Regions from separate parts of the Homo sapiens genome. Here region 2 is linked to region 1. The links come from fine-mapping of genetic effects on gene expression. Tissue or cell type: monocytes. Region 1 holds a variant in brackets; the other region holds the start of a gene. All regions are shown on one strand. Distances are between the middles of the regions.

Region 1 (2,680 bases):
TCACAGTTCTGCAGGCTGGAAGTTCAAGGGCATGGTCTTGGCTTCTGGTGAGGGCTTTCACACTGTGTCATAACATGACAGAGAAAGTCAAAGGGATGCAAGCATGTGTGAAGGGACAAAACCCAAGAGCATCCTAGCTCCCACCTTTGTGGGAACTAATTTATTCCTATGAGAATGAATCTAGTCCCACCAGAGTGAGAACTCAGTACCTGAAGAATGTCACCAAGCCATTCATGAAAGATCCACCCTCATGACACAAACATCTCCCAATAGGTCCCACCTCCTACCACCACCAGATTGGGGATCCAATTTCAACATGCATTCTGGTGAGGACAAAGCATAGCCAAACTATAACAGATCCACAGAAAATGTAATGTTGTAACTTGAGATAATTAAAATAAGGAAAAGGAAGTTGTGGTGGCAATACGGTAGCAGAAGTATTTTCTTCAATTAAAGAGAAGAAAACACTCACAGATTGGCTTAGTGTGTTACTAACTGAAAGCTTAGCAAGGTGTCTTAATGTTAAAAAATAGATATGAGCCTCATCTAACACTTGATAAAATAGGGTAATGAAAAGATCACGGCCACTGTTAACCTGAGATAACAACATAGGAGCCCCCAATAACTGGAGAAAAAAAGGAAGAAAAAATGCTGAAATAATAAATGGCAAAAAGCGAAGACAAAAACAAATCTATAAAGATCAGTCCTACAGAGGTCTGTATTTATGCATGTATGGAAGCTGGAGAAACAAATTTGCACCAAAAAGTTCACCTAATTCATCATTCTTGGGCCACATATGTCACCAATGAGATCTACATCCCCAGCCCTTCAAAGGGTTTAGTGATTTCATTCTCAGGAAATCACTAAGAAATGGCAAAGGAAAGAAACAGAGACTGCTTGGAACCACAGTTTTCTGCTTTCAAGGTAGGCACTAATTGAAGGGTAAAATTTAATCTTGAGTCATGAGCAACTCTTTGGAAATGACAGACCAAAAATCATTGTGTTTGATATATCAATATCTGCAAATAGTGACTACAGGTAAAGTTTCATGTAAACAAATCAAAAAGAGGGAACAAGAGACAGTGATTATATACCAGATGAAAACATCTGGTCACATATCCTCATAAATAATTCATTCATTTGTTCAACAATTGTTGAGCGCCTATGAATATGCCAGATAATGTGCTAAGCAATAGAGTGACCAAGATGAGAAATATATTGCCCATCCTCAAGCTCAGAGTCCAAAAGGAGAGATGGACACATAAGCAAGTAATTATAATGTAATGTAGTAACCGAGTGCTGCTTATATATGGGGGTACATAACTCAGCATGAGTGTGTTTGTGGCTGGAAAGGC[G/A]GGTGGTGAGAAATGGTGGAAGAAGGCCTTTAAAGGTTGGTAATGCACTGGAACAGAAGAAAAGAGCACTTGTTACCTGATTCCTGCCTGCTATCTTTTACACTGGAGAATGACCCCTGGCTCATTTTGTGGAGCTGTTAATTATAGGCTCCTGCCTCTTCTACCACCTATCCCTTGGCCACAGTGCTTGGTTCAGGGATGGTCACATGCTAGGCCTATGAGAGCCAACCATGAGATATTTTTTTGGCTTATCCTATTTTTATTCTAGAGCCATCAGCTAGCTGTTAGTAGTCCTCTTTGCCACCTGATAAGAAGACCCTGCCTAAGAATGAAGTCAGCACAGTGAAAAGCAGAGTTGAAAACTAGGAAGAGATAAAGAGCCCTGCTGACATCATTTGATCTCCTGCATTCAGACATACCTGAATCCATGGCTAGATTTTTAATTGAATGAGCCAATAAATTCCTTTCCTTAGTATGGTTTGGGTTGAGTTTCTGTCACCTTTGACTAGATGGCTTCCTTAAATCAACTGCCTATGTCAGAGAATTATGAGCAACTTCAATGTCCACCAATGAGTCTTTTTTTCTTTTTCTTCTTTTTTTTTTTTTTTTTGAGACAGAGTTTTGCTCTGTTGCCCAGGCTGCAGTGCAGTGATACAATCTTGGCTCATTGCAACCTCTGCCTTCTGGGTTCAAGGAAGTCTCCTGCGTCAGCCTCCTAAGTAACTGGGATTACAGGCGCGCACCACAATGCCCAGCTAATTTTTTGTATTTTTAGTAGAGACGGGATTTCACTATGTTGGCCAAGCTAGTCTCAAACTCCAGACCTCAAGTTATCCACCTGCCTCGGCCTCCCAAAGTACTGGGATTACAGGTGTGAGCCACCGCGCCTAGCCCACCAGTGAGTCTTTTAAGGTTCAACTAAACATTTCAGACTCATAAAGTTATCACAGGCAACATCTGGCACCAGTCTTCTCAGAAGATGTGGGCACAAATTACAGCTTGTCAGTATCTATCAGCTGTTTTCTCTTCATGACACGGTCCACATAGCTGTCCAGGAGGTATTGTCTTTGGACCCCCAGATGAGCGCTTAGTTGCAAAGTGACAAGATCCACATTGGATGGGTCGGAGCCATCCTGGCTTAGAAGGCTCATGCCCCACAAGAATAAATATCTCCTGAATAACTCCTTAGGCACAGCTTTCAGGGTCCCCATGAGAGAGATGCCTAGTTCCAAGAGTCACTGCACTCAGAGAAGCCCAAAAGATGGTTTCCCCTTCTGGAATTTATAATTCATCTGTAGTTCTTCCCAGTCTAGATGGAATTTACC
Region 2 (2,680 bases), 990 kb after region 1:
TTGATCCGGGCTGTCTCTGTGAATCAGCCTCAAGCCGAGACTCTGCATTAAAAAATATATATATTGAAAGGTTCGTGGTGAGGCTGCCGAGTTAATGCTAACAAAGGACTTCAGAGGGCACTGTCTTTCTTTGTTTGCAAGGAGCGAAATTTCTCGGCGCAAATACCAGGAAGGAACAAGGATAAAGGAAAATGAAATTAGAATGAAGAACTGACAGTCTTGGTTTCAGCAGTCTGGACTCTGGAAGCGCCATGTGGGGCCTCCTTAGCCAGTTTAAATCGCTCCTGCGCCTAGTGTTTTAAAGCAAGCTGGGAGGCGAAGCGCGGGCGCTTGGGGACGCGGGGACCCGGGGACGGAATAAACTCTGTCGTGGGGCCCTCACTCTCGAGCTGCAGAGCTGGGACATTGTTGCTAAGTGACTACGAGCCAGGCAATTCACATCTCCCTGGGCCTCGGTTCCCCACCTGTAAAACAAGGGGGCTGGACCGGTCATCTATCCCGTTCATTTATAGACTTAGCTCCAAATACCGAATAAAAGACAGATATTTTAACTCCCAGTGGAAAGACAAGCCTCTAGTTGCAAAGATAAATGGGATTCGTAAAAGTGATCACCACGCGAGATTATTTTTCGAATCGCCTTCCCTTCTCCTGACACGCGGGACTATTAAACGTGTGTGTGTGCTGGGCCATTTCTTTACTGAACTCCAAACTAACACCACCGAGCGATAAAAAACAGGAGAAGGTGATGGAGGCTTAATCGCTAGGAGAGGAGGCGGCGTGGCTGCTGCTTTGAGGAGTTCACTTTGAATCAAGCGGCCGCGGCGATTGGCTGAAAAGCACGTGGTGCGCGCCCCGCAGGACTGCGCCCCGGCTGCCCCTGCAGTCGCCTGGCTTAGGGCAGAGTCCAGCCGGGGGTGCCGCACCCACTGGGGAGTGGGGAGGGAGGACACATAGGAAATGCCTGGGGCTGGAGTCTCTTTGGCTCTCTGCCAGCAAGAAACTTAAACGTCCTGGCTTGCTCAACCCGAGTGTCCCTAAACTGTCCAGACTTTTGCCCGTCCATTGCCACTATCTCTCCCCACTCTGGGTGTCCTACCCAAGGCGCTGTCTATGCGTGCCCAGGGCCTGTCCTGCGGATACCCAGCTCGCCCCTTGCAGCCCTTTTTAGAGCATCTCGCGGGCTCTGGCATCACCAAGCGCACAGCCCCGGGCTGCGCTCCCCTAAGGTGGGTCCCTCAGATCCGGGGCTGTCCATTAACCAGGCTGGCCCAAAGAGGCGCAGACACTCGAACCCGGGAAAACTTATTTTATTCTCGGTTCCCGGGGTTGCAGCTGCCAGCGGCTGAGACAGTGCGTCCGCTTTGTCTCTCTGCACTCCCCGCAGCCCCCCTCTCCCGCTTCCTCTCCCGATTAACTCCCCCGACACGCTCTTCTCTAGCTCCTCTCCTCCTCCCACTCCTTCTCCTCCTCTTCCTCCTCCTACACCACAGGCCGCGCTAATGCGCTTCCTCCCTCCCCCGGTGTCGGTCTCTTTGCATACGCGCCCCCTCCCCTCCCCGCCGCGCCACTTATAGCGGGGCGCACGGCGGCGGGGCGCAGACTGCTCTGGCAGCCGGAGAGGAGGCGGTGCGGCGGTGGCGCTGCGGAGACCCGGTCCAGACGCCTGGCGGCCGCCGGCACACAAGGCGCTTTCTAGCTCCCTCCCCCGAGCGCACAGCCCGCCTCCTTCCGCGGCGCCTGCAGTGGCAGGCTTGCTCTGCCCTACCGTGACGCGCTCCGGAGACGCTCTGCGGGTCCTGGACACCGGGTCCGCGGCGTGGGGACGACAGACGGAGGCGAACGCCATCGGTAGCCGGTCCGCGAGCCATCGTTCGGGGCGCAGTCCTCTCCCCGGCTGGCCCTCCTTTCTCCGGGGCATTCGCCACCGCTTCCCTGGGCTGAGACGACCGGTTCGTCGCCTCCTTGCCCGTGACCGTCGCTAGAACTCAGTTGTGCGTTGCGGCCAGTCGCCACTGCTGTAAGTTTCCCCCACTGCCCCGGACCTGTTGCAGGCGCTGCGGGCTTCAGGGGCTGCTTCGGCTGCAGGGGTGTGTTCGCGAGGGGTGAGCGTGCTCCGAGCACTCGGGAGCTTCGACTAGAGGGCAAGGGGAGCTCTTCTCGGTGCGGAGATCACGGTGCCCGCCGCTGCCCTCCCACAGCAGGCAGAAGCCGGGCATCGCCGGAGAGGTCGACCGGCCTCCCCTCCGCGGTGCAATGTCTGGGGCGAGCCGCTGGGGAAGCGAGGAGCCGAGCTAAGGATACAGTCAGCCTCTCTCCTCTGCGGAAAGCAGCGCTTTCCTGGGGGTGAATGTCGCGCTGCGTCGCTCCCCGCAGCCTCCAGGGCCGAGCGCGCGGGATGGTTGGCCCACGTTGCATCCTCCCCGGCTTGGAGGAAAGTTGGGGCCATGCACAGACACCCTGAGTGCGGGCATGTTCACTGCGGCGGAAATGTCTATAGAGAATGAATGAAAACTGCTTTCTGAAAAACTAGTTTCTTGATCTGTCGTGTTAACATTATTAGTTACAAAGGATAGGAATTGGTGGGCCTGGAGATGAAACACTGAATTTATCCACATGCGGTTTGGTGTCACACAGGCATGGCCAGCTTGTTAAATAGCGTTGCAAGTGTTAATAAAAAGAC

What was found. PIP is the estimated chance that this variant, and not a neighbour inherited with it, causes the effect.
Region 2: it holds the start of ENC1, and the variant in region 1 is fine-mapped to the expression of ENC1 in monocytes (BLUEPRINT, PIP 0.90).

What each region holds. Positions count from the first base shown.
Region 1 is chr5:75,631,392-75,634,071 of GRCh38, reverse strand. The region is part of intron 5 of ANKDD1B (ankyrin repeat and death domain containing 1B); the gene reads right to left. Among named protein-coding and RNA genes, the nearest start is that of ANKDD1B, 21 kb to the right of the region's middle. The variant G/A (reference allele first, on the strand shown) is at 1,356.
Region 2 is chr5:74,639,644-74,642,323 of GRCh38, reverse strand. ENC1 (ectodermal-neural cortex 1) reads left to right here and starts at 1,596. Exons shown (of 3, transcript NM_003633.4): 1 at 1,596-2,017. It also overlaps a transcript of HEXB not described here. RefSeq lists enhancers at 1-610, 611-1,326, 1,788-2,147 and a silencer at 1,488-1,747.